Linked DNA regions of Homo sapiens: region 2 is linked to region 1. Evidence: fine-mapped expression QTL. A gene starts in region 1. The other region holds a variant in brackets. All regions are shown on one strand. Distances are from middle to middle. Region 1 holds the start of P2RX5-TAX1BP3 (P2RX5-TAX1BP3 readthrough (NMD candidate)). Region 2 overlaps P2RX5 (purinergic receptor P2X 5).

Region 1 (14,397 bases):
CATGATTTCAGGAAAGATCTGTCCTTGACGTCCATCACATTGCTTCTGGGTGGAGGCCATGGGCAGCCGAGAAATGAAGTAAGACTTGATGTTTCCCGGCCTGGCCAGGAGTCACTCGGTCCCTCACCAACCTGAGTGCTGACAGCTCCCCGCAGCAACACCCCACTTTACAGCAGGGGAAGGGGCGCCCCAGCACCACCCACCGTTTATTCACATGCAGACATCACCCACTCACATGCAGACATCACACACACACGCACACACGCGTGCACGCACGCACACACGCGAACACACGCACACACACAAACGCACGCACACATGCACACAGACACATGCACGCGCACACACGCACACACGCGAACACACGCACACACGTGCACACACGCGCGCACACACACCCCCAGGCAGAGACCCACGGAGGGCCAGCCAAGGCCCCTCATCGACCAAGGCCCACCCGTGGCCCCCAGTAGCCAAGCCCACGTACTTGGAGAAGTTGAATTTGGGGAAACGGATGTGGTTCTTTATGAAAATGGTGAAGTCTTCGGCCTCCTTCAGGAATGGCTCCCTGAAAACCAACCCAGAACAGCCTGTCCAGGAGGCCCCACCCCTGTGCCCCTCCCCCAGGCCTGGGCCAGTGTGAGGCCTGTTCCTTGGGTCCCCTGGAGCCTCTGCCCAGGACAGTTAATTTGCTCATGCTGGGGAGGCCGTCGGGCCTCGCTGGGACAGCCTGACTCCTCCCTCAGCGTGAGGCTCCCAGAGTGGGCAGGACTCCACCCTCAGGCTGGGACCCACCGCACGGGGCTGGGAAACCCCTCAGGGTCCTGAGGCTGCAGCCACTCACTCCGGCCTGGAGCTTGTCTCCAACGGGCACCAGGCAAAGATCTCACAGGTGCCCCTGGCCAAGTTCTCTCTCCGCAGGCAGCGGCCGGTCTTCACTCCTGCAGGGGTGGGACAGGATCAATGCCAGGAGCCTCCCACTCCGAGTCCTCCTTCAGCCCGTGGCCGCTCCAGGCCCTCACCGTTTCCAGCTGTAACCGCTTCCCCAGCGTGGCAGTCGCTGTCCTTGGAGCACGCGCCATCAGGAATGCCTTCATTCTGCCAGGAGAGAAGGGGCACCTGGATGGGGGGGTTCCCCCAGCTCAGAGCCGGGTCCCACTCCAGGAGATAGAATAGGGGTTCTTCTTCGGCCTGGCCCACACACACTCTGAGAACCTACTTCTCCCCCATATAATGCAGGAACCACACCCGGGTGCACACAGCCACCCGAGACCCTTGGAGTGGACAGACACCCTTGCTTCAGAAGAGAGTAGACCCCAACCACTGCCGGTGGCTCTCCCACCCCCACGCCAGGGCCCCTCGCCAAATCAAACCTCAGCACAGACGTTCTGCCGCTGGTTGGGGGTCACAATCAGGTTGGTGACCACAAAAAAGACGTTCTCTCCCTAAGGAACCAGAGAGGCACTGAGGAACCTCCTCCTGCCCCTTAGGGACCACCCCACCTTTCCAGCGTTACCTGAAAGAGGGCGGTCCCTCTGCCTGGGTTTTGGGGATAATGGGGCCACAAACTTGGTATACTCTGCCCATCTGCTCATGGACCCCACAGTCCCCAGGTAGATGTCCATTGATAGATCTCCTCCAGACTCACAAACCCCAACTGCCCCAGGATCCGGGAGAAGTGGGCGCAGGGCTCAGGCTGCCCTGGCCCTGGCCAACTGTGAACAGGCTGGAGAGCTATTCCCAGAGGCAGTGACTTAGAAGGGGGGTTCTCTGTGCCAGCCCACCTGACTCACAATGACCTGAAAGTTCTCTGGGTCCCATTTGTTCTCAGCAGACTCAGATAGAACAGAGCAGTCACCCGCGGCACAGTCAAAGAGGGCAGGGGTTTGGCATGGGAGGTAGGATCTGGACAGGGTTGCTCTCTGCAAGCCCTGGCAGCTGTCTTGGGCCAAGAGAGATGATGGATGGGGGTCCCTGCGTATCCAAGAAGCTTCCCGTGTGACCCACCCGAACCAGGCAGTCCCTGCCAGCCTTGGCCGTGTGCTAGGTGGGGACTCAGACCTGGGCTGGAATGACGTAGTCGGCGACATCCCAGATCCGCTGCCCAAGATCCGAGGTGTTGGTGAAGGCCACGCCCTTGACTTTGGTGATGACAGCACTCTGCAGGGAGGTGTCGACGTCTTGGTAACCCTTCTTTATCAGGAACACCCATCTGTGGGAAGGGGGCCGGTACGTGGGCATCAGCCACTCTGCTGGCTTCGGGGAGCTTCCCCAGGCCTTGGGGTGGGGTAGCAGTCACAGCAACTCCTAGTTGAGGTGGAGCAGGCTCAGGGCTCCACCTGTCCCACCAGCTCCTGGGCAGGGGCCACAGCTCCCACTGCTGACTGAAACCCAGTCCTGCAAGCAGCAGAGGCGACAAGCAACCCTAGAGATGGGGGCCCTGAAGAGGCAAAGACCAGCCGGGCGCAGTGGCTCACGCCTATAATCCGAGGCAGGCAGATCGCAAGGTCAGGAGATTGAGACCATCCTGGCTAACACAGTGAAACCCTGTCTCTACTCAAAAAAAAAAAAAAAAATACAAAAAATTAGCCAGGCGTGGTGGTGGGCGCCTGTAGTCCCAGCTACTCAGGAGGCTGAGGCAGGAGAATGGCGTGAACCCGGGAGGCAGAGCTTGCAGTAAGCAGAGATCGCACCACTGCACTCCAGCCTGGGCGACAGAGTGAGATTCTGTCTCAAAAAATAAATAAATAAATAAATAAAAGAGGCAAAGACCACTGTCCACTCAGAGGCCCCAAGTGGACAAGCCTGGGCTGAAGCCACATACTGGTTTGGTGACCCCAGGCAAGCCAATTTCCCATACATAACATGGGGTGACAGCGCCTCCCTCTGGGGTTGTGATGGTGCCTAACCTGAAACCAATCACGAGGAGACCTCAAACAAACCCAAACTGAGGGGCATTCTACAAAATAAGAGTACAGGCCAGGCACGGTGGCTCGCGCCTGTACTCCTAGCACTTTGGGAGACCAAGGCAGGAGGATCGCTTGAGCCCAGGAGTTTGAGACCAGCCGGGGCAACACAGTGAGACCCCATCTCTATGAAAAACAAAAAAGTAATCTAGGCATGGTGGCACCAGCCTGTCGTCCCAGCTACTCGGGAGGCTGAGGTGGGAGGATCCCTCGAGCCTGGGAGGTCGAGGCTGCAGTGAGCCATGATTGTGCCCAGGTGACAGGGTGAGACCCAGCCTCAAAAACAACAACAAAAAAATGAAATAAGAGTACAAATCCCATACTTGTTGACACTAAAAACGCAAGCAATAAAAGAAAAAATAGGTAAGTTGGACTTCATAAAAATTTAAAATGTTCATGCATCAAAAGACACTCTCAAGAAAGTGAAAAGACAACCCACAGAATGGGAGAAAACATTTGAAATAATGTAGCTGGTAAGGGTTTAGTATCCAGAAGATACAAAAAACTCTTATAATTTAACAATAAAAAGCCAAATAATCCAATTTAAAAATGAGCAAAGGATTTGAATAGACATTTCTCAAAAAAAAAAAAAAAAAAGAGAGAGAGAGATACACAAATGCCCAATTAAGCATATGAAAAGATGACAAACACCATTGGTCATTAGGGAAATACAAATCAAAACCACAATAAAACACCACTTCACTTCCACTAGGATGGCTATCATTTTTTAAAAACCCTACAGATAACAGGTGTTGATGAGGTTGTGAAGAAATTAGAACCCCCGTATATCACTGATAGGGATGTAAAATGAGGTAGTTATGGTAGAAAACAGTTTAGCAGTTCCTCAAAAGGTTAAGGATCGAGTTACCAGATAAGCCAGAAAATTCCCAAGAGATTGAGAACATGGCCAGGCACAGTGGCTCCCGCCTGTCATCCCAGCACTTTGGGAGGCCAAGGCAGGTGGATCACCTGAGGTCAGGAGTTCGAGGCCAGCCTGACCAACATGGTGAAACTCCGTGTCTACTAAAAAAATACAAAAATTAGCCAGGCATGGTGGCCCATGCCTGTAATCCCAGTTAATCCAGAGGCTGAGGCAGGAGAATCTCTTGAACCCAGGAGGCAGAGGTTGTAGTGAGCTGAGATCATGCCATTGCACTCCAGCCTGGGCAACAAGAGCGAAACTCCATCTCAAAAATAATAATAATAATAATTAAAAATTGAAAAATTGAAAACATGTTCACAAAAAACTTGTACATGAATGTTCTCAGAAGCATTCTTCTTCTTTTTTTTTTTTTGAGACAGTCTTGCTCTGCTGCCCAGGCTGCTGGAGTGCACTGGTGCGAGTAGCTGAGATTACATGCGCTCGCCACCACACCCAGCCAATTTTTGAATTTTTAGTAGAGACGGGGTTTTACCACGTTGGTCAGGCTAGCCTTGAACTCCTGACCTCAAGTGATCCAGCCACCGCGGTCTCCTCTCCCAAAGTGCTGGGGTTACAGGCATGAGCCACTACACTCAGCGGTGTGAAAACCACCCAAATGTCCATCAGCTGATGAATGCATGACCACAATGTGGCAGCCCCACACGGCAGGATAGTATCAGCCACAGAGAGGAATGGAGGGCTGATAGATGCCACAACATGGGTGAACCTTGAAAACATGACACCAAGTGAAAGAAGCCAGAAAAAAAAAAAAAAAGGCCGCATACTATACAATTTCATTTATACGAAATACCCAGAATAGGCAAATCCATAGAGACAGATTCTCCTGCCTCAGCCTCCCGATTAGCTGGGATTACAGGCGCCACTATCATGCCCAGCTAATTGTTGTGTATTTTTAGTAGAAACAGGGTTTCTCCATGTTGGCCAGGCTGGTCTCGAACTCCTGACCTCAGGTGATCCACCCACCTCGGCTTCCCAAAGGGCTGGGATTATAGGCATGAGCCACAGCGCCCGGCCGCCAATTTCCTAATTTTCATACTTGTACTTAGTTAAATATGTCCTGCTTTCCCTGCCATGTGAGGACACAGCGAGAGGGTGGCCATCTGCAAGCCAAGGAGAGAGCCCCCCCTGAGACCCCGAACCATGCTACCACCCTCGTCTCAGATTTCCACATCCAGGACTGCGAGAATTAAATTTCTATTGTTCAAGCAAAAGCAACTCCATTTATTCATTCATGCGTTCATTTCACATCTATTCCCTAAGCAGTTAAGTGCTGCTGGGGCCCCACCCTCAGGGCATTCCCGGACTGACAGCGACATCAGGCAAATGATCCCCCAAATAAGCCCAATAATTACACTGTGGGAAGGCCAGGGAGGAAGGGAGAGGGAGTTACTGGAAAGCCCAGATCTGGGGGCTGAGTGGATGCTAAGGGAGTGGAGGAGGACGGGCAGGCCTGGCTGAGCAACAGCACAGCGCCTACGAGGCCGCTCAGGTGGGAGGCGGCCAGGGGCCTGGGGATGCAGCTCAGAGAACGCGGACTGCTGGACCTCCGAGGGAGAGCCAGGCGTCAGGGCTGCCCTCCCAGGAGGAAGCAGGAGGAACTCCACCGCATTTACTGAACGAGTGGAATGAGGCGCATCCCCATTGTCCAGCGCTGCTTCTCCCCTCCACCTGCTCACCCCCGACCCACCCCGGGGTCAGGGCTCTGAAGGCGCCTGGCAGAGCAGCCTCCACAAGTTGCCTCTTTGGCTTTGTGGCGCCAGCTCCTGCCAGGTGGCATGAGGATGGGGGAAGGGGATGGCCGAGCTGGGTGCAGAGATAGAGGCCTCTGGGCAGGACCCCCAGCTGGACACCAGAGAGGCTGGCCGCGGGTGGGGCAAGTTGACCGGAAGGGAGCTCAGGAACATGCCGGGCTGATGAGTTTCTCCAGCTCTGAGTAGGCAGTGACACCCTGTGATTATAAATAACCTGCCGGCGCCTGGGTCAGCTGCCAGGCCAAGGCCCAGGGAGGCTCCTGGGGCGACAGCTGCCACCCAGCCCCCTGGCATCCCTGCCCCCTTCCCATGGCCCTAACACGTGGGGACCCGACTCTGGGAGAAGCAGCTGCAGGGAAAGCCTGATAAATCGAGGAAACCAGAAGGCCCCTGCCCACCTCTCATCACCTCTAGCGCCAGTGGGGGAGTGGAGAGCCCCCTCTCTACACCCTACTCCTACACCCAAGGACCCAAAGAGGACCCCCACAGCAAGCAGGCTCACAGACCCCCAGCTACCGGGAAAACCGCGTGCACGCCTGCGAATTCCAGGACCCTGGAGAAGGACGCGGCGGCTGGCACCCGCCCTGCCCCTCCCCCGCCTTCCCAAAAGTCCGCGGAGAACTTACACGACCAGGTACGCCAGGATGGAGGCCTGCAGCAGCCGGTACAGCAGGCCCACCTTCTTGTTCTTGGCGATGACATACTTCTCGGTCTTGTAGTCGAACAGCGACAGGCAGAGCCCCTTGCAGCCCGCCTGCCCCATGGCGCGCTCTCAGCCGGGCTTGCGGACCGCCCGGCCCACGTGCGCTCATGGGGAGCACTCGGTCCCTCGGTCCCTGCGCGCCCGGCGCCCGCCTCGGCCCGTCTGCGCCCGCTCAGCTGCAGCCCGGGGTGTCCGGCAGGGCTGCGGGGCGCGGGGGCGGGTCGGGGCGGCCTTTTATTGACGCGGTTGAGAAAGCCTCGGCTGGGAGCTGGGCGGCGGCGAGCACCGGAACCTCAGACCGCGACCTTGCCGCTACCTCTTCTTCCTCCTCCTCCTCCTCCTCCCCTGACACAGTGACACCCCTGCAACCTACTCCCCAGCCACCGGTCTGGGAGCGCAGCCCCCCGGATGCGCAGGACCGCCCTGTGCTGTTGCCCAGCTGAAAGCAGCGATCGCGGAGGAGAGGAAGTGAAAGGGGGAAGGGCTCCTTTTTATTTTATTTTAAATTTATTTATTCATTTATTTTTGAGACGGAGCCTCGCTCTGTCGCCGAGGCTGGAGTGCAGTGGTGCGATCTCAGCTCACTGCTACCTCCGCCTCCCGGGTTCAAGCGATTCTCCTGCCTCAGCCTCCCAAGTAGCTGGGACTACAGGCGTGATAATTTTTGTATTTTTAGTAGAGACGGGGTTTCACCATGTTGGCCAGGCTGGTCTTGAACTCCTGACCTCAGGTGATCCGCCCACCTCGGCCTCCCAAAGTGCTGGGATTACAGGCGTGAGCCACCGCGCACGGCCGGGAAGAGCTCCGTTTAAAGCAAAACTCCCCTTTCTCTCGCAAAGAAATCCCAAAGGGTTCTTCCTATTGAATAGATGGGGAACTGAGGCCAGGGGAGGAAGGAAGGGGACACAACAGGTTTCTCCATTCACCTCGCGCCAGGTCTCCTGCCAGGGAGATACATTCTTGCTCCGTGGGCAGGGGGTGGTTGTGGGGGGGAAGCCGTGGCTCCCCCACAGGCTGGAAGAGACAAGACTTGTCCCACCTGAGGCTGCCTGTGTCTGCTGCGACTAATGCGCGTTTCTACTGCAGCAGCTGCTGCAGGTTTAAAAGCCCACACTCCGGCGGAGTCGGTGGTCAGGCAGGTCCCGAGTGCCGGCAGCATGAAGACCTCCCTCCCACACTCAGGGCGGATGGTGCGGGGGTGGGGGGCAGACGGGGTGGGGGCGGGGAGACACAGGCAACCCACCCTAGGATCCTAAAAATATGCCTGGAGAGTGCGCATGTACCAACTGTTTGGAATGGTTCCCAACGCACAAGAAATAGAACTGATCCATGCAGCTATGACTGCAACCCTCTCAGTATGTGGAATTCAACAGGAGTGGGAGTGGGATGAGGGAGGGCCTCCGGGGGGGCAGGTTTAGAACTCCTGACAGCCAAAGACGCAGGGCCCTGGGTGAGCGCGGTGTGGTGAGGAGCTGCGCACGCTTATTTTCTGCATCCTGCAGTCTGACCACAAGCAGTCCTGCTCCTCTCCCTACCCCTGGCTTTCACACACAAAGAGGCTCCCTTCCCTAAGCCACAGACTCGGGGAACTGGAAGGTACCCTGAAATTCATCAGTGTGATTCTAAAGTAAAAGCCCCAAGGAAGGTGTCCAGTTTCAAAGTGCATGGGAATCATGTGGAAGAAAAAAAGGCAAATTCCTAGGCCCTGCCCCTCAAATTTTCATTCACGAAATCTAAGATGGGGCTGGGAACCTGTATTTTGCTCTCAAACTGTCATTTGGGAAAGCGTGGATCTTTGCATCTTTTCATCCATTTCAACTCAACTGCCATTTCTTCAAAAAGGCCTGTTATTATTGCCCACCCAAAGTAGCCCCCAGTCCCAGCCCAGCCACTTTCTATCCCATTATCTCATCTTATTCCCTTAGAGCACCTGTCACTATCCAGTAGGATCTCGTTGACTTAGTGACTGTGTCCCATGCTAAGACCAGAAGCTCCCGGAGAGCAGGGACCATGCCTTTGGACATCTCTGTATGTCCCTGTGCCTGCCACATAATAGTTCTAGACATATTATTGAATGAGTGGACAAACCTGGCCCTGATTTTTTTTTTTTTCAACAGGGAGGGCATTTCGATTCCACCCTGCCCCAGTCATGACTGCGAATTTTAGGGGCTGAAGTCATCTTGGCTCTCCTGCCAGCCTCCTCCTCAGCCCCCTGCTAACACAGCACTCCAATGCTCACTAAAGCAGCCGCCACCGAGTGACATCACCCCTAAGAAGATGCCCGTCACCCTGACAGTGCTGCTCCAGGGTAAGGTATAGAGGGGAGGTGGACTTTCAGAGTCTCACAGGAGTCGCCTGAATTGCATCTGCCCTGGAGAAGAGCTTGCCCATCAACCCCAGCACAGGACAACATGAGTGTCACAGAGATGGTGCCACATTGAGTCTCTCCACTCCCCAAGGGAGTTCCAGGTTTTGTTCCAGGGCCTGTTTGTTCTTTGAAGGGGTCTTTAGAGACCAGGACCTTCATTTTTCTGGGGTGATTAGGGAAGGGGTGAGTAAGTGAGGCCCCAGAGCAGAGCCTACCACTAGCCCCAGTCCCAGGCACTCTGCTGTTCTTGATTCATCAAACCTTTGTGTGCTACTGGAGAGGCTGAACTGCCAGGCACTTGCCCTCCATGTCCTGTCTTAACTGCCACTGTGGCTTTAGAGAAGGGCTCTGCTCTGACTTCCCCTCCAGTACAGGCAGCCCCTCCTGAACTCCCCACGGCACAGCCAAGACCAGGCTGCAACTTCTGACGGAACTGTCCTGAAGCTTTAGAGACCACATGAGGGGCATCTAGAGGGGACAGGGCTCTCGGGGACAGGACCAGGCCCATCCTTACGGGGTCCCTTACTGCACAGCTTCAGAGACTAGATCCAGACCCACTGGTGAGGCATGACATCAAATTACTGGGCGACAACCAGCATTAAAAAAAATAGGTTGGGCACAGGCGCTCATGCCTGTAATCCCAGCACTTTGGGAGGCTGAAGCAGCAGAACCGCTTGAGCCCAGGAGTTCAAGACCAGCCTGGGCAACATAGCAAAACTTTGTCTATATATATAGACAGACACACACACACACACACACACACACACACACACACACACACCTATATATATAACTAGCCAAGTCAGGCACAGTGGCTCATGCCTTTAATCCTAGCACCTTGGGAGGCCAAGGCAGGAGGATTGCTTGAGCCCAGGAGTTCAAGACCAGCCTGGGCAACATAGGGAGACCCCTTCTATACAAAAAATAAAAAATTAGCTGGATGTGGTCGTGCACACTTGTGGTCCCAGCTGCTTGGGAGGCTGAGGCAGGAGGATCACCTGAGCCCAGGTGGGTTGAGGCTGCAGTGAGCCATTATTGCACCACTGCACTCCAGCCTGTATGATAGAGACCCTGCTTCTTAAAAAAAATTGACCAGGTGGGATGGTGCACACCTGTAGTCCTAGCTGCTCAGGAGGCTGAGGTAGGAGGATCTCTTGAGCCTGGGAGTTCAACACTGTAGTGAGCAATTATCGCAAATAAATAGAAAATATTGCCGGATGCAGTGGCTCACACCTGTCATCCCAGCAGTTTGGGAGGCCGAGGCAGGTAGATCACGAGGTCAAAAGTTTGAGACCAGCCTAACCAACATGGTGAAACCCCCTCTCTATGAAAAATACAAAAATTAGCCAGGCCTGGTGGCACACGCCTATAGTCCCAGCTACTCAGGAGGCTGAGACAGGAGAATCGCTTGAACCCAGGAGGTGGAGCTTGCAGTGAGCCAAGATCGCGCCACTGCACTCCAGCCTGGGTGACAGAGTGATACTCCATCTAAGAAAGAAAGAAAGAGAGAAAGAGAGAGAGAGAGAGAAAGAAAAAGAAAAAAGAAAGAAAGAAAGAAAGAAAGGAAGGAAGGAAGGAAGGAAGGAAGGAAGGAAGGAAGGAAGGAAAGAAAGAAAGAAAGAAAGAAAGAAAGAAAGAAAGAAAGAAAGAAAGAAAGAAAGAAAATTAGTGTATTTAAGGAAGTATTGGTGTTATGTGAAACTTTTGTTTTAAGTGTCCACATATGGCATTGTGATGTGGAATATACTTCTTCCTGTGGGTCACAGTCCAAATAATGTGGAAAACACTTACAAGCTGTGGCCCCCAGTATCTGCATTCTATCTCCCCATGGCTGAGGCCAACTCACCACCCTCACAAGCACATGCCAAACACCCATTGTGCCCAGTGGGGAGATGAGGACTTTGCTTTTTACACCTGCCTTATTAAAAGTCCAAGTCAGGGCCGGGCAGTGTGGCTCACGCCTGTAATCCCAGCACTTTAGGAGGCCGAGGCAGGCAGATCACGAGGTCAGAAGTTTGAGACCAGCCTGACCAACATGGTGAAACCCCCTCTCTATGAAAAATACAAAAATTAGCCGGGCCTGGTGGCACGCGCCTATAGTCCCAGCTACTTGGGAGGCTGAGGCAGGAGAATCGCTTGAACTCGGGAGGCGGAGCTTGCAGTAAGCCGAGACTGTGCCACTGCACTCCAGCCTGGGCGACAGAGTGAGACTCTGGCTCGAAAAAAAAAAAAAAAATTCCAAGTCAGGGACATTTCCAAAACCAAGATGAATTCTCCAACTGAGAGAAAAATGCCTGCTGCTTTCGAGTGATACAGTTTGGATGTGTGTTCCTCCAAATCGCATGTTGAAATGTGACCTCCCATGTTGGAGGGGGCCTAGTGGGCGGTGTAGGGTCATAGATGTGGCTTCTTTATGAATGGCTTGGCACTATCTCCCGGATAATGAGTGAATTCTCACTCTGGTAGTTCACGCGAGAGCTAGTTGTTTAAAAGAACCTGGTACCTCCTCCTCTCTCTCCTGCTGCCTCTCATCCTGTGACATGCCAGCTCCTCCTCTGTCTTCCACCATGATTGGAAGCTTCCTGAGGCCTCCCCAGAAACTCCCCTCACCCCAGCCAGGGGCCCAGGGCGAATGGCTGGTGTTCAGAGCAGTCACAACCCCCTCACTGCCTCACCACGGCCCCCCTCCTTCTCCTCCCTCACAGGAGTCCACATCACGCTTCCCTGTAATGAGTATAATCCCTTCCTGTTCACCTGAAATAAAGGACGGGATGAGCAGTGACTGTTGTTCCGTTGTTGTCTGATTTACAAGCCTTTGTCTAGTTCAAGCTTGTCCAACCCTAGGCACAAGGACGGCTTTGAATGTGGCTCAACACAAATTCACAAACTTTGTTAAAACGTTGTGAGGTTTTTTTTGCAATTTTTTGTTTTTTTTAGCTCATCAGCTATTGTTAGTGTGAGTGTATTTACGTGTGGCCCAAGACAATTCTTTTTCCAATGTGACCCAGGGAAGTCAAAAGATTGGACACCTCTGGTCTAGTTGGATGATTTAAGGTACCTGCAGTGAAGTGATGAGAACTATAAAATGAACTTCTAAGTCCGGGCGTGATGGCTCACGCCTGTAATCCCAGCACTTTGGGAGGCCAAGGTGGGCGGATCACCTGAGGTCAGGAGTTCGAGACCAGCCTGAACAATATGGAGAAACCCCGTCTCTACTAAAAATACAAAATTAGCCCGTCATGGTGGCGCATGCCTGTAATCCCAGCTACTTGGGAGGCTGAGGCAGGAGAATCACTTGAACCCAGGAAGCAGAGGTTGTGATGAGCAGAGTTCACACCATTGCACACTCCAGCCTGGGCAGCAAGAGTGAAACTCTGTCTCAGAAAAAAAAAAAAAAAAAAAAAAAGGAACTTCTAAAGGGACATTTTCTCTGTTTTTTTTTTTTTTGTTTTTTTTTTTTAAGACAGAGTCTTGCTCTGTCTCCGAGGCTGGAGTGCAGTGGTGCAATCTCAGCTCACTGCAACCTCTGCCTCCCCGGCTCAAGTGATTCTCCTGCCTCAGCCTCCCAAATAGCTGGGACTACAGGCACACACCACCATGCCCGGCGGTGAGTAATTTTTTTGTGTGTAATTTTTTCGTATTTTTAGTAGAGACGGAGTTTCACCATGTTGGTTAGGCTGGTCTCGAACTCCTGGCCTCAAGTGATCCACCCACCTGGGCCTCCCAAAGTGCTGGTGAGAGATCAAGCCAGCTGGACTTCCTGGGTCGAGTGAAGACTTGGAGAGCTTTTCTGTCTAGGTAAAGGATTGTAAATGCACCAATCAGCACTCTGTAAAAACGCACCAATCAGTACTCTGTGTCTAGCTAAAGGATTGTAAATGCACCAATCAGCACTGTGTAAAAATGCACCAATCAGTGCTTTGTGTCTAGCTAAAGGATTGTAGACACACCAATCAGCCCTCTGTAAAAGCGCACCAATCAGCATTCTATGTCTAGCTAAAGATTGTAAACGCACCAACCAGCACTCTGTAAAATGGACCAATCAGCGCTCTGTAAAATGGACCAATCAGCGCTCTATAAAATGGACCAGTCAGCAGGATGTGGGTGGGGCCAAATAATGGAATAAAAGCTGGCCACCCAAGCCAGCAGTGGCAACCTGCTGGAGTCCTCTTCCACGTTGTGGAAGTTTTGTTCTTTCCCTCTTCACAATAAATCTTGCTGCTGCTCACTCTTTGGATCCACACTACCTTGATAAGCTGTAACACTCACTGCGAAGGTCTGAAGCTTCACTCCTGAAGTCAGCGAGACCATGAACCCACTGGAAGGAAGAAACTCTGGACACATCTGAACATCAGAACATCAGAAGGAACAAACTCCAGACACACCATCTTTAAGAACTGTAACACTCACCACGAGGGTCCATGGCTTCATGCTTGAAGTCAGCGAGACCAAGAACCCACCGGAAGGAACCAGTTCCAGACACATTGGGACTATATGCGTGAGCCACTGTACCCAGCCTGCCATTTTCTTTTTACATCATCTCCCTTGCTCCTAAGACTTGCCAGCATTTTAAAGTCTATTATTGTGGTCTGGACCCACTCTGGGACATCCTGGTCTGCTCTGAGACCTGGGACAGTCTCTGATAAAATCCTGGTGGACTCCCAAATGTATCCAGTAAAAGCTACGAGGGAGCCTCAGACAGAGCCCTCCCCTCCTCCAAAGAAATGTGCTGGGGGCCTCACCTGGGGGAAACCAGACTCTCCTGCCTCTGATCCCAAGCTTTCCCCACACCAGTATCTGTTCCTTCTACACATTTTATAGATGAAAAGCGAGAATGTATGGTGCAATGGGCTGAGCCTTTAGAGACAGGGGAATTACTCCTCAAATAGAAAAACTCAACAACAAACGAGGCCAGGCCCAGTGGCTCACACCTACAATCCCAACACTTTGGGAGGCTGAGGTGAGAGGATCACTTGACCCCAGGAGTTAGAGACCAGCGTGGACAACGAAGTGAGACTCTTGTTTCTACCTAAAAAAACAAAACAAAACAAAAAACATTAAAAAATTAGCTGGGCATGGTGGCAAGTACCTGTGGTCCCAGCTCCTTGGGAGGCTGAGGTGGGAAGATTGCTTGAGCCCAGGAGATTGAGGCTGCAGTGAGCTGAGATCATGGCACTGCACTTCAGCCTGGGTGACACAGAGGGATACTTTAAAAAAAAAGAAAAAGAAAACTCCTCATTTCCCTATGGGATGAAGTGCTTCCAAGAGGAAAAATGTCAGCTGCAGGAGAGTTGCCAACAGCATCACTGTTCCCAGCAGCAGCTTGGAGGTGTCCCTTGGTCACCCCTGCAGCCTCTGAAGACACGTGGGTTCTCTCTTCCCCTCCAGCTCTGGTGAGGGTGAAATAACACCTCCCCCTTAGCCTGAGATTCCAACAAACCCAAAAAACATTCCCCACAAAATTAAAGGAAACAAAACAGAAAATAAACAACATTTAAAAACCCCAGCCGGGCATGGTGGCTCACGCCTGTAATCCCAGCACTTTGGGAGGCCGAGGTGGGTGGATCACCTGAGGTCAGGAGTTCGAGACCAGCCTGACCAACATGGAGAAACCCCATCTCTACTAAAAATACAAAAAAGTAGCCGGACGTGGTGGCACATGCCTGTAA
Region 2 (14,397 bases), 22 kb before region 1:
AGCTGGTCCAGCAATGTTTCCTCCTGGCCCAGGCCTGAGCCAGTGCTCTAAGCTCAGCCTCACTTGTCGCCTTTATCAGTGGCTTCTCTGCCTCCACCCACCTGATTGCTGGAGCTTCTCCAGCACACCCAACTGAGATAACACACCCAGTCCCTATGGCTCCAGGGCGGGGACTTTCGCTTGACCTACTGCCCACCGGGCAGGCATTTCTTCTCATTCTCTGAACGCTGTCGGGAGGTAGGCAGGAGACCTGAGTCTTTCCTGAGGTGGTCTTTTCTGGCTGAGCACTTCTCTCTGGGACTCCCCACCTCTGTCATAGGGTTGTGTCCCTCTGTGACACCGGCGTCTGAGTCTAACGTCCCAGCCTTCCTTCCTCCCTCTGCCTAGTCTAATAGCACCCAGCACCTAAAACAAGCCAGAGGGCGGCCAGGGGCCTAGGCTAGCCCCCGGAGGGTCTACTCAGGACTCAAGTGCCAGGAGGGAGGCCTGGACTTTTTTGCCTTAAGGGCTGGAGACCCAGGAAAAGTTCGAAGAGGAAACGCTCATCGCAGCTATACGAGCGTCCACCCTGGACCAGGCGGCGAGTGGGTTGGAGGAGCAAGGCTGGACAGGAAGGGGGCAGGGGCTGCCACGGCAGGCTCGGGAGAGCCCCACCCCCAGATCTCCCTCCGGGCGGCGGCGCAGGCTGCAGCGGAGGAAGCATTTCCTCATTCCAGAGGCTGCGACTCATGGACGTCGGGATCGGCGCCCGCCCCCAGCAGCTCCCCGTCTGGGGACACGGAGGCCCGGGAAGGGGGCGCTTTTCCAGGCTCCTGCAGCCAGGCCTTTCCCCGTGGCCCTCCCCGCCCTGCGCACGCAGTCTGGGCTCTGTCCAGGGTCTCGGGAGGCTCTCGGGTCCCGGCCATCCCTGTTTCGTGGCTGGGGGAACTGCGGCCCGCTCCGGCAAAGCGGGGACCCGAGCCCTTGCCGCCGGTTCGCAGGAGCCCCGGGTTCGATGCTCTGTCAACCTGCTTGGGGTGTCCGTTTCCCGCTCTGCGAGGTGGGGTCAGGCCAAGACGAGGAGGAGCCCGCGCAAGCGCACTCACCACCACGGCGGTGACCGGCTGGCCCGGGATGTAGGACATCTCGACCCTGCTCTGGTCGCCCAGCGCCGCTCCGAGAAGCCGGCAGCAGAGTACCCGCGGTCGCGCCCTCGCTGCTTAACAAAGGCCGCCCCGCTCGGCCCGCCCCCTCATGAATAGTTAACAAACCTCCAGCCAATCACTGGCCGGAGCGCCACTCCGCTTTCGGAAGTCCCTGCGCGTGCGCAGAAAAGCGGGCAGAGGGCGGAGCGTGTCCGGGGCGCCCACGGCGCAGGCGCGGAGGGCGGGGCGGGATCTGGGCGCGTGCGCAGCCCGAGACCTCCCGGCAGTCTTCCGAGCAAGATGGCGCCGCGGGCATTTCTTCCACTGCCCGTCTGAGGGAACGCTAAGTAGTGTGTCCGGCGCCGTGTTCCAGGTAACTGGGCCACCGTGGCCGGGGAACGCAGACGCGCCACCACCTCCCGGCCGGCCCGGACCCTCAATCTCCTCGGCGTCTTTGGAAGATCCGAGGCCCAGGACTGGTGCCAGGTCTCGGAAGCTCCAGGGGGAGGGGGCGGCGTGAACCCAACTCACCGAGCTCCGGGCGCCACTTGTAACTTGGTTTTCTCCGCAGCTCCGCGTTGTTCCGCGAGAAAGCGAGAGGCCGAGCCCGGGCTGGTGCGATGGCCGCGGTGGTGGCCAAGCGGGAAGGGCCGCCGTTCATCAGCGAGGCGGCCGTGCGGGGCAACGCCGCCGTCCTGGATTATTGCCGGACCTCGGTGTCAGCGCTGTCGGGGGCCACGGCCGGCATCCTCGGCCTCACCGGCCTCTACGGCTTCATCTTCTACCTGCTCGCCTCCGTCCTGCTCTCCCTGCTCCTCATTCTCAAGGCGGGAAGGAGGTGGAACAAATATTTCAAATCACGGAGACCTCTCTTTACAGGAGGCCTCATCGGGGGCCTCTTCACCTACGTCCTGTTCTGGACGTTCCTCTACGGCATGGTGCACGTCTACTGAAATGGGGGCCCGGGGGACTTTTTTAAAAAACCAGATCGGGAGGACTGTGGCCAGCAATTAACACCATGTAGACTTCCTTAGTTCTTAAGTGGTTGAATTCGCTGCTTGTTCTGTAACGTTATAAATAATTTATATCTGAAGACGGAGAGCCTGTAATATTCTTCAGATTAAATGAAGCGTGAGACACTTTGTGGAGTTCTTTCCTGCTGTAACGCTTAGGCTGCCACTGATGCAAAATCGCCGAGATTTGACTCCTGGAGAGCAAGGAATGGGCCATAGCCTTGTGTTAAGTCCTTGTATTTACACATAGGCCATTCAGAAACGGGCCCTAAGGGCCTACATAAGGAAAGAACTTATTAACATCCTAAGAAGCAGTAACAGTTAATATGTATTAAGAGCTCCCTGGGCCGGGCACGGTGGCTCATGTCTGTAATCCCAGCACTTTGGGAGGCCGAGGTGGGCGGATCACCTGAGGTCAGGAGTTCAAGACCAACCTGGCCAACATGGCAAAACTCCGTCTCTACTAAAAATATAAATATTAGCCGGGTGTGGTGGCGCGCGCCTGCAATGCCAGGTACTCGGGAGGCTGAGGAAAGAGAATCGCTTGAACCCTGGAGGCAGAGGTTGCAGCGAGCCGAGATCGTGCCACTGCATTCCAGCCTGGGTGATGGAGCAAGACTCCGTCTGTCTCTCAGGGAAAAAAAAAAAAAAAAGAGTTCCCTATATGCTGGCATTGTGACTTCTACTCTACACCGATCCTCTCATTTAATTTTAGCAATAACCTTACAGGGTAGATGTTATTGTTAGCTCCCTCGTAAGGAACCTGAGGCTCAGAGAGGTTAAATACTTCTCCCAGAGGAGATACAGCTAGGAAGAGACAGAGCCAGGATTCAAATGCAGGTCTCTTAATTTGCTCTTGATATGTTTGCTGGGTGTACCTTTCACAGGCCAGCGTTCCCTCCCACTAACCACTACTTTCAGGTATATATGGTGTCATTTTAGTTCCATTTCATTTAGTGACAGTCCTTTCCATAAGAAAAAATAAAGTCAAGCTGTATTTTTTAGAATATGTCTAGGGAAGATTAAACATTGTTTGGACATTTAGGCTGGGCACAGTGGCTCACGCCTGTAATCCTAGCACTTTGGGAGTCCGACGGCAGGCAGATCACCTGAGGTCAGGAGTTTGAGACAAGCCTGGCCAACATGGCGAAACCCCATCTCTACTAAAAATAAGATGCAAAAATTAGCCAGGCGTGGTGGTGGGCACCTGTAATCCCAGCTACTTGGGTGGCTGAGGTAGGAGAATCGCTTGAACCCTGGAGGTGGAGGTTGCAGTGAGCCAAGATCATACCACTGCACTCCAGCCTGGGTGACAGCAAGATTCCATCTCAAAAAAAACACAAAAATTGTTTGGACATTGAAGTTGAACTTTGGGCAGGTTTAGGGTGTAAACACCTCCATGTGTTAATCCATGATCCTTTCTTGTCAGGAGGGTTATTTTAGAATAAAACGCATTTGTGGCCGAGCACGGTGGCTCATGCCTGTAATCCCAGCACTTTGGGAGGCCGAGGTGGGCAGATCACCTGAGGTCAGGAGTTCGAGACCAGCCTGACCAACATGGAGAAACCCCATCTCTACTAAAAATACAAAATTAGCCGGGTGTGGTGGCACAGGCCTGTAATCCCAGCTACTAGGAAGGCTGAGGCAGGAGAATCTCTTGAACCTGGGAGGCAGAGGTTGCGGTGAGCCGAGATCATGCCATTGCACTCCGGCCTGGGCAACAAGAGCGAAACTCCCTCTCAAAAAAAAAAGAATAAAATGCATTTGTTTAATTGAGGAATAAATATTGCATTAGAATGACGGTAATTGCCTGAGTGTAGTGGCTCCTGCTGTGATCTCAGCACTTTGGGAGGCCAAGGCTTGAGCCCAGGAGATCAAGACCAGCCTGGGCAACATAGTGAGATGCCCATCTCTACAAAAAAACATTTAATTAGCCAGATGTGGTGGCATGTGCCTGTAGTCCCAGCTACTCAGGAGGCTGAGGTGGGAGGATCAGGATCACCTGGGCCCGGGAGGTTGAGGCCACAGTAAGCCACGATTTTGCCACTACACTCCAACCTAGGCAACAGCGAGACCCTGTCTAAAAAAAAAAGAAATTACAGTAATGAAAATGATGGTGCTCATTGGATTTATGGTTAACTGGGGAAACCAGCATCACCTAACTTCAGAAATACTTAAATCATGGTGAGTACTATGAAGAGGACATAGCAGACCTAGCCCAAGTTGGGGTATATGGAGGTCAAGGAAGTCTTCTCTGAGGAAATAACATTACATCTGAAACCCAAAAGTTGAATAACATAGGCAAGTGTGGGGAAGGAGTTACCTTCAGGAAAGCGCATGTTTCCAGGCCATTGGGCAGGAAGGAATGTGACTGTATTTAGAGAGTGAGAGAAGAGGCCACAGGGTAGACCCAGACCAGATCATGGAGGGCAGTAATGGGTGTGGGGACATGCGCCTGTAGTCCAGCTACTCAGGAGGCTGGAATGGGAAGATCAAGATCACTTGAGCCCAGGAGGTTGAGGCTGCAGTGAGCTCCCATTTGCCCTGGCCTTGATCCTCAGAGCAAATGGGGGAAGCCTTTGGAAGTTTTTAGTCTGAAGTGACGTAATCACATTTGGATTTTTTTTAAAAAAAGAATCTGTTTTAGATTGGAAGGGGATCTGAGAGCTTGAATCCAAGTCCCCTTTTGACAGATCATAGATAGCCCATGGCCAGTCATGGAAATGGATCTGGGACCCAGACCTGTTAAATTCCGTTTCGGCTTCAGGAACACATGCACACGACGCCAAGGAGAAGCTGAGGCCATAGCGTTGCCCCCCATCTCAGTGAGCCCTTTCTCTGCCCCCACTGAAGATCCTCAGTGGTTTGCCCACCTCAGTCCTCTCAGAACCTCCTCTGAGTGGGAAGGAAAGGTTCATTCCTGGTGTAAGGGAGAAGCAGAGGGAGTCCTCAGCCTGGTGGGAGAGGAGAAAAAAGGAAGAGGGATAAGCGAGCTGATGTACTTAACCATTTCCCTATTGTTGGGCAGTAAGTTTGAAATGTTCACTACTATAAAAAATACTGCAATGAATGTCTGCGTTTATATTGTTTTGAGAAAATTAATAAGTTCCTACAGCAGAGGATAAAAATTTGGTTCCAAGTTACTTCCAGAGTTGTGTTAGATTACACTACTTGAATGAAAAGTACCAGTTTTATCAGTTCCTTCCTAGTCTATAATTTTAATAGTTGCTCATTTAAAGCATTTCCATAATTTGAATTTCTTTGCAAGATGAGGAATATATTGCTTACTAATTGTTTCTTGTGTCTGCCTCTTTTGATCTTGCCTTCTTACATTTTCCTTTAAAATACGGGTAAAAATGGGCCAGGTGCGGTGGCTGTTGCCTGTAATCCCAGTACTTTGGGAGGCTGAGGTGGGCGGATCACAAGGTCAGGAGTTCAAGACCAGCCTGACCAACATGGTGAAACCCCGTCTCTACTAAAAATACAAAAAAAATTAGCCGTGCATGGTGGTGCACGCCTGTAATCCCCGCTACTCAGGAGGCTGAGGCAGAAGAATCACTTGAGCCTGGGAGGCAGAAGCTGCAATGAGCCGAGGTCGTGCCACTGCACTCCAGCCTGGGCTACAGAGCGAGACTCCATCTCAAAAAAAAAGATGGGTAAACATGAAGAGAAAAAAATCAGGACACGTTTGAAATTGACACCATTTATTGTTTTATGACCAAATAAGAGTGTCAGAGAATACATATCTTGGGCAGGTCCCAGAAAGCGTCTGCCATCTCCCCCACTTTAATTCTGTGTACTGGCCTAAGGGCAAACAGCTGGCAGGAAGGTGGTGTCTTTAGGAGAGAGAGTACTTGGATCCACTGGAGAGTATGCTCTGAGGGAAGCTGCGGCACTTGCAGAGGGGAGTGGGCTGGAACCAAATGGAGCCCTTTTCCGGACACGCACAATGCTATTCCCAGTGAGGTAATCTAGGAACTCTACAGGGCACTGCGGTCCTTAGCTGAGGTGCTCAAGGACTCCGGAAGGAAGTCATGTTCCCCATTTACAACCCGTTCCCTAGTGCGGGAAGCCAGCCACGGAGAAAGGAAGAACTGACGGCAGGGGGTGGGGCAAAAAGACAGCCATGATGGGTCCGTCCTGATGACCCCAGCATCAGACGTGGAGGTCACTTTGCTCTGTGATGGCTGGTCCCTGTGATGTGGCATTGATAGCACCCAATGTACAAATTTCCCGTTGGGCAGCATCCTGGGATTCCCAAAGGCATGGGATCACTGGGTGCTAGACGGCTGGGTTTAGGACAGGGCCTGAA[C/T]GTAAGCAGAGGCAATTCACGTGCTCCTGGAATATCAGAACAGAAAGGAGCTCTTGAGAGGCTGGCACTCTCATCTTCCCAGTGAGGCAACCAGTGCCCAGGGAGAAGGGCCTTCCCAAGTCTGAAAAGAGCTACAGTTCATGCTTCACTTCTCCCCATTTAAAAGCCAGTTTCCGGCCAGGCGCGGTGGCTCATGCCCATGCCTGTAATCGCAGCACTTTGGGAGGCCGAGGTGGGCGGATCACGAGGTCAGGAGATCGAGACCATCCTGATTAACACAGTGAAACCCCGTCTCTACTAAAAATACAAAAAATTAGCCGGGCGAGGCGAGCGCCTGTAGTCCCAGCTACTCGGGAGGCTCAGGCAGGGGAATGGCGTGAACCCGGGAGGCGGAGCTTGCAGTGAGCCGAGATCGCGCCACGGCACTCCCATCCAGCCTGGGCGATAAAGCGAGACTCCGTCTCAAAAAATTAAAAAAAAAAAATACAAAAAAAAAAGCCAGTTTCCATCAGAGTAATGAGCTCCCACTCTTGCACCAAGATTATGCAGAAAAATGGTGGGAGCTGGGGGCTGTGCAAAAAGCAAGGAAACTGGAAGAGTGTGACACTGTCTGGAAGCTGTCAGGCGATCCCTGGCTCTTCTGAGCACGGGGCCCCTGATGGGCAGTCAAGAGGTCACTGGAAGGCTTGGCCGGCCTTGAAGAAACAATGAGGTTAAATCCTCTAAGGAAGCAAAGTCTAAAGGGGCAACCTTGCAGCTAAAGACCGTCAACTTCATTAAACAAAAGCCTCACCAAACCTGGCTCCTGTCTGCCGCCTTCACCCAGGTTCTCCGTTGCTCCTTCCCATATCAAAGCGTCTCTTCACACCTGTGCTTCTCTTACCTGGAATGCTTCCCCCTCACCTAGTTAGGCTGCTATAACCTTTCAGATTTCAACTCATAGGTCACTTCCTTGGGGAAACCTTCTCTGGCTACTACTCGCTGACCTCTCCGACACCCCATTCCGTCTGTGATGACGGGTGTGATCATTTGGTAAGGGTTCAATGCCCCATTAGACTGGAAACCCTCGGGGGCAGGGATCGTGTCTGTGTTGCTCATCTCTGTCTCAGCAGCATCTGGTCCAACACCTGACATGTCACAGGGACTCCATAAATATTTCCTGGCTGAAGGAATGACTAACTGTAGGAAGACATTTTCCTTTTTCTAGAGACGGAGTCTCGCTCCGTCGCCCAGGCTGGAGTGCAGTGGCACGATCTTGGATCACTGCAACCTCCGTCTCCCGGGTTCAAGCAATTCTCCTGCCTCAGCCTCCTGAGTAGCTGGGACTACAAGTGCACGCCGCCACGCCCAGCTATTTTTTTGTATTTTAGTAGAGACAGGGTTTCACCATGTTGCCCAGGCTGTTCTCAAACTCCTGAACTCAGGCAATCTGCCCGCCTCGGCCTCCCAAAGTGCTAGGATTACAGGCGTGAGCCACCGTGCCCGGCTAGGAAGACATTTTTGTTGCAATATGAAACAAATAGTATGACTATCCTCAGGTTCTGTGGCTTCTGCCAGCCATTTCGAAGTCTGGTTAAAATCAGCAGCCATGACCCCTGCCTTTTTTGCTTCCTCCCAAACCTAAAAGTCACCAAGTTATAAAAATGCAAGGCTTTGCGTCAGTGAAGAAGTGACACACCTAAGTGGATCACCTGGATCTTCACTTTCTTTTTTTTTTTTTGAGACTGAGTCTCACTGTCGCCCAGGCCAGAGTGCAGTGGTATGATCTCAGCTCACTGCAACCTCTGCCTCCCAGGTTCAAGCGATTCTCCTGCCTCCGCCTCCCGAGTAGCTGGGACTACAGGCATGTGGACACCATGCCCGGCTAATTTTTGTATTTTTAGTAGAGATGGGGTTTTGCCATATTGGCCAGGCTGGTCTCGAACTCCTGACCTCGTGATCCACCCGCCTCGGCCTCCCAAAGTGCTGGGATTACAGGTGTGAGCCACTGCGCCCAGCCTGGATCTTTACTTTCTAATCAGAGAGCAGTATAGGCTTGTTGCAGGTTCCCTTCCCAGAAAACCCAAAGCGAGGAAGTTGCTTTGCTCTAGGAGGGTTCCTGTTCTGGAGACCATGTCCCTGGGCCCCTGACATCCCTCTCCAAAGCCTCAGTGGAGGGATGCTCTCACCACCCCCGCCTTTCTGTGTGCAGAGAGAACCCCTCCAAAGAGGATGCTTCCAGGGAGCCGCCCAGACAGCACTGGGACTGGTTGAGTGAGGGCGGCGCTGGAGCACTTTTCTGCCAGGTGGCTCGGGCAATGGCGAGGGCTGAGCTCCAGGTTTCTCACCTTGGGTTTACGGGGAGACAACTCACATACAACGGGGTAGGAGAAGAGAGCTAGTCAGCTCCCAAGCCCAACATCGAAACGTACTTCATGTCCATTTTTGACAGGGGAGACTGGGTCTTAAGCGCCAGCGTCAGGAGAAGTTCATTACCTGAGTGAATGTGTAAGAAACCACACGAGTTTTCGGCAAAATCAGGGAGCCTCCTGCATTAGTAACACTGGCTGCCTCTGGGGAACCGGGAGGACGGAGGTTGCTTTTCACTGACTATCCTTTGCACCTTCTAAACTTTGAATCATGTAAGTATTACCCAGTCAAAATATTGTAACTTAAATCAGCTGAGCATACTGCTGCTTTCAGGGTGGGGGAGGAAGCCTCTTGGTCTCTAGGCAGCATGCGTGTAAGTCTGACCTAGAAATTGGCTCCATCCACCAAAGCTGGCCTTTTTCCCCTGAGAACCAGGGCTTCTTAAATGTCACTGTGCACACAGATCACCTTGGAATCTTGTTGAAACACAGGTTCTGATTTGGGTGGGGGGCGGGGGAGCTGGGACCTGCATTTCTAGCAGGCTCCGGTCCCTGGACCCCACTTTAAATAGCAAGGCTTGGCCGGGTTTGGTGGCTCACGCATGTAATCCCAGCACTTTGGGAGGCCAAGGCTGGCGGATCACCTGAAGTCAGGAGTTGGAGACCAGCCTGGCCAACATGGTGAAACCCCATCTCTGCTAAAACTACAAAAATTAGCCGGGCATGGTGGTGGGCACCTGTAATCCCAGCTACTTAGGAGGCTGAGACAGGAGAATCGATTGAACCTGGGAGGCGGAGGTTCCAGTAAGCCAAGATCACGCCACTGCACTCCAGCCTGGGTGACAGAGCGAGACTCTATTTCAAAAAAATAAATAAATAAAAAGCAAGGCCCTACAGCGATGGAGGCAGAGAGCAGCTGAGGGTGCGGTAGGTGGGTGTGGCCGTGGCATAAGACAGGTGGGGACGGAGGGAGGGGAATGAGGGCCTCCCTAACTCAGCCCGTTTACACCTGCTGAGTGGCGCCATCCTTGATCTCATTAGCACTTCAGGCCCAGCCTCTGAGGAGGGGTGGGGAGGGCAGGAGCTCGGCAGGGTCAAGGCGACTGTATCTCCCATCTGGGCAGGTCCATATTCCCCGGGCGTCCCGAGGCTGGTGGAGTCAGATGGAGCAGAGGCCTCTTGCCTCCCCTTCCCCATCTTACCTAGACTCCCCAGGAGCTGGCTTCCCCACTAAGAGCCAGCTGCCTCCTGACTGCTCCAGTCCTTTCCTGGTTGCCTCCATGGCCACCTTTAAATTTTATCCTTGGGGCAAGCCCAAATGTCCCCTTGGGTGTTGTCCAAGAGCTTTCTCTGAGCAACCATCATTCTCGGCAGGGATTTCGGAAACCCTGCTAGAGGCTAGAGGAAGGCCAGCTGGAGTGGCTGGGCCTGGCTGTGATGTCTCTGTTGGCTTTGGAGGAATTACACGCGGGCCCCTCTCCCTGAGGTTAGGTCAGCATCTCATTTAAGCACCTCTTGGTGGGCCCAGCACACAGCATGCGTCAATACATGTTTACAGCTCATATGAATGAGTGAAGGTGCAGCCAGGTTGAGGGAAAATCCAAACACTCCACTTCCGCTCAGCACCCTGGCCTGTCCCTTTCCCTGGACACCTGCTCCAGGGACTCCTCTTCTAGGTCCGAGCCCCTCTGACCATTGGGAGGCTCCCCTCCTCACTCAGCAAAAAGCTTGCAGCAAGATCCCAAAGTTCAGGAGAGATGGCTGTGCCTGGAAGCCCCTGTCTCATGCAGGCACAGACTCCTCTACCCAGTTCAGAGCTGCGGGTTGTTCTGGCCCCAAAGTTTTCAGCGACACTGCTGGTAGCCAGCAGCCCTGGCTACATCTCCACTGTCTGCAGCTGCTCCAAATTCACCTGTGCATTCTGCAAATGGCCAGACCTGTGTGTGGGCGGGAGGGGGCGCACAGGGCAGAGAGGACTGTCGGGAGCCGGTGGGTGGGCCAGCCTCACCAGAGGCAGCAACGCTCCTGGCAGCACTGCAGGCAGGCAGAGCATTCAGAGAGAGCACAGCCTGCCAGGGTTCCTGCGGAAGCCCAGCACGCATAGATGCTCAGGCAGAAGCCTCTGGAGTTGCCCCGGCAAGGAGTAGCAGCAATTGCGGTGGCAGCTGGAGCGTGGGCCTGTGAGTCCACAGCCTCCCACAAGCCTCAGCGAGGCTCAGCCAAGACAAGCCAGGCCGTCGGGCTTCCCGCTTGCTCAGAATGGGAGCTCAAGTGAGCACCCAGGAAGTAAGAGTCAGCTCAGGGAGCACAGGAGGGCTGCCAGGCTCTGGGTCTACCCCATACGGACCCCTAGCCTCCAGCCTCCTTGCCCCACTGCTGCAGCCCCTGCCTCTCTCTCTCCTCACTCTTCTCCAGCCCAGTCTATTTCTTGCTCCTTCCCTGCCCAGGCCCAGCTCCCAGCTGAACGCTGCCAATTCCTGAGTCAGCAAGGAATGAAAGCTGGGCCAGGAGAAAGGCCACCAAGGTCAGTGAGTACCTGGGGTGTGGTTTGCAAGAGAGTCACAGAACCCCAGTCTGACAGCAGGAGGTGTCCAGCCCCCACTGGGAGGGGAAAAAAGGGAAAACAAGGCACAGAAAGGGCCAGGCACCTGCTCACCGCACAGGTACTCTGCAAGGCAGACGCAGAGCAGGCCCGAGACAGGTCCCCCACCCAGCCAGACGCCCTCCCCACGCAGGCTGAGCCTCGTCTGCAGAGAAGCCAGCGCCCCCAGGAATCGCGGCCCAAGGACCCCCCTGGCAGCACGGCCAGCACCCTCCTGAGGCCGGGGCAGCCCCAGAATCGCACACAGAAGAGGGGCTGAGGGGGGGTCATCTGAGCACAGAGACGTTCGGCAAAGGCAGAGTAACTCAGGAGAACCTCATCCTACAGACACTGCCGGGATTCAAATCTCAGCGCTGCCATTCACCGGCTGTGTGACTTGAGCAAATTACCGAGCCTTTCTGTGCCTCAGCTTCCTCATTTGTAAAATGGGGAAGATCGGTGTCTATCTGATTCAGTTGCTTACATGAGTTAACAAATACGGAGAGTACAGAGGGGTTCCAGGCAGAGAGTCAGTGCTGTGGAGCAGCGCGCTGTTATCATCTGAGCGCCGGCATGGCACAGCAGGCACCCATGGCCATCCAGGGTCTCGGGAGCTAAGGGGGACCTTGCGGGGTAAAGCACCAGCCCCTTCCCACAGAGGCTCTCCCAGTTCCTAGATGTCCTGCCTTGTGGCCAGCTCACACCAGAGCAGAGGGGTCCGCTGGAGCTGCCAGGCATGAGAAGCCCCAACTGGGGACCCCTCTCTGCAGGACCCAGCTGTCGGGCTCTCTGCCTAGCAGTGGCCTCACCTGTGGGGCTCCAGGAGCTGTGGGCACACAGATCCGTTCCCCTTCTGACTGCTGCTTCCACGCTTCGCCTCGGGTGGCTCCTGCAGCTCCTGCTGCTCCGGCATCCCCAGCAGCCCTGGCCCAGATGTGAGCTGCTCAGATAGCCCCAGCCCCGATGCCTCGTCCTCGGCCTCCTGGGAACTGTCTTCTAGGCCCCTGGACAAGATACAAGCTGTTCACCTGGGACGGCCCTGCAGGGTGCCTCCCCTCCTAGACGGGCGGAGTGGGCCTTGAAGAATCCCTCGCCCTGCAGGCCGCCACCCTGCTTCCTCCAGCCGGTGTCCTCCACCCTGCTTCCTCCATGCGGCTCCCTCCACCCTGCATCCTCCACCCTGCTCTCTCCACCCTGAGTCCTCCACCCTGCTTCCTCCACGTGGCGTCCTCCACCCTGAGTCCTCCACCCAGCTCCCTCCACCCTACATCCTCCACCCTGCATCCTCCACCTGGCTTCCTCCATCCTACGTCCTCCACCCAGCGTCCTCCACCCTGCATCCTCCACCCTGCATCCTCCACCCTGAGTCCTCCATCCGGTGTCCTCCACCCTGCATCCTCCACCCTGCGTCCTCCACCCTGCATCCTCCACCCTGCATCCTCCACCCTGCGTCCTCCACCCAGCGTCCTCCACCCTGCATCCTCCACCCAGTGTCCTCCACCCTGCATCCTCCACCCAGTGTCCTCCACCCTGCATCCTCCACCCTGCATCCTCCACCCTGCGTCCTCCACCCAGTGTCCTCCACCCTGCGTCCTCCACCCTGCATCCTCCACCCTGCATCCTCCACCCAGCGTCCTCCACCCTGCATCCTCCACCCTGCATCCTCCACCCTGAGTCCTCCACCCAGTGTCCTCCACCCTGCATCCTCCACCCAGTGTCCTCCACCCTGCATCCTCCACCCTGCGTCCTCCACCCAGCGTCCTCCACCCGGCGTCCTCCACCCTGCTTCCTCCACCCGGCTTCCTCTACCCTGCTTCCTCCATCCTGGGTCCTCCACCCTGCAGGCCACCACCCTGCTTCCTCCATCCTGGGTCCTCCACCCTGCAGGCCACCACCCTGCTTCCTCCATCCTGGGTCCTCCACCCTGCATCCTCCACCCTGCATCCTCCACCCTGCGTCCTCCACCCAGCGTCCTCCACCCTGCATCCTCCACCCAGTGTCCTCCACCCTGCATCCTCCACCCTGCATCCTCCACCCTGCATCCTCCACCCAGCGTCCTCCACCCTGCATCCTCCACCCTGAGTCCTCCACCCAGTGTCCTCCACCCTGCATCCTCCACCCAGCGTCCTCCACCCTGCATCCTCCACCCTGCATCCTCCACCCTGCGTCCTCCACCCAGCGTCCTCCACCCTGCATCCTCCACCCAGTGTCCTCCACCCTGCATCCTCCACCCTGCATCCTCCACCCTGCGTCCTCCACCCAGCGTCCTCCACCCTGCATCCTCCACCCAGCGTCCTCCACCCGGCTTCCTCTACCCTGCTTCCTTCAGCAGCACAGTCAGGACTGTGGTTGGGGTTCAGCCTGTGGCCAGGGTCAGGGCGCACGGCTATAACCCAGGGCTGGGGTTCAGGCCATAGCTGGAGTGCAGTAAGGCGAATGACCCAGGCAGACCCTGCACCCACTGTCCCAGGCTGTGGGGGTGCTGAGGGAGTACTAAGGTGTCTGTCCCAATTCCCATTCTGATCCCTGCTTCTCCAGAAGGCCTTCCCCAAAGGCCGAAGCCACAGCCCCTTCCCCTTCCCGCCCTCCCACAGTCATCAGGGTTCCCCACCCACGCTGTGCTCTGCCGCTGTGAACACGCACACCCCACCGAACCCAGGGCCCAGGAAACTCCGGAAACAGCCTCTGCATGGAAGAAAATATCCGCTTTTCTTTCCTTTACTACTCCAGCTTCCCTCAGCCCCGGCGCACCAGGACCACCAAGTCCAAGAATCCCAAAACAGAAGTGCTGCAGACACCACTCGATTGGTAAACCAACTCTCTCATCTCCCAGATAGAGAAACCGAGGCCCGGGGAGGCCTGGGACTTGTCCAGAATCAGGCGGAGCCTGTGAACTCCGTCTCCCGCCCTGTGGCCCACAGCGCCCTCTCCTCCCACTGCTGCCGAGGCCGAATCCGGTTCTGTAGAGCATGTACTCAGAACACTTCTCCTCCCCGGGCCCTCCAGCCCCTGCCTCCCA

What was found. PIP is the estimated chance that this variant, and not a neighbour inherited with it, causes the effect.
Region 2: its variant is fine-mapped to the expression of P2RX5-TAX1BP3 in whole blood (INTERVAL, PIP 0.95).

Annotation. Positions count from the first base shown.
Region 1 is chr17:3,689,586-3,703,982 of GRCh38, forward strand. P2RX5-TAX1BP3 (P2RX5-TAX1BP3 readthrough (NMD candidate)) reads right to left here and starts at 6,819. Exons shown (of 15, transcript NR_037928.1): 1 at 6,284-6,819; 2 at 2,059-2,209; 3 at 1,371-1,442; 4 at 1,020-1,095; 5 at 842-938; 6 at 485-565; 7 at 1-45. It overlaps P2RX5 (purinergic receptor P2X 5), which reads right to left and starts at 6,570. Exons shown (of 12, transcript NM_002561.4): 1 at 6,284-6,570; 2 at 2,059-2,209; 3 at 1,371-1,442; 4 at 1,020-1,095; 5 at 842-938; 6 at 485-565; 7 at 1-45. The coding sequence starts at 6,420. RefSeq lists enhancers at 4,171-4,220, 4,621-4,670, 5,641-6,157, 6,270-6,319 and silencers at 6,440-6,799, 12,677-12,877.
Region 2 is chr17:3,667,403-3,681,799 of GRCh38, forward strand. It overlaps P2RX5 (purinergic receptor P2X 5), which reads right to left. Exons shown (of 12, transcript NM_002561.4): 11 at 12,188-12,382; 12 at 5,825-6,475. The coding sequence ends at 6,466. It overlaps P2RX5-TAX1BP3 (P2RX5-TAX1BP3 readthrough (NMD candidate)), which reads right to left. Exons shown (of 15, transcript NR_037928.1): 11 at 12,188-12,382; 12 at 1,656-5,091. It overlaps TAX1BP3 (Tax1 binding protein 3), which reads right to left and starts at 1,176. Exons shown (of 4, transcript NM_014604.4): 1 at 1,086-1,176. The coding sequence starts at 1,124. It overlaps EMC6 (ER membrane protein complex subunit 6), which reads left to right and starts at 1,410. Exons shown (of 2, transcript NM_031298.4): 1 at 1,410-1,497; 2 at 1,696-2,263. The coding sequence starts at 1,745. The coding sequence ends at 2,077. RefSeq lists enhancers at 1-501, 502-1,032, 1,565-2,095, 2,096-2,626 and a silencer at 1,124-1,463. The variant C/T (reference allele first, on the strand shown) is at 6,450.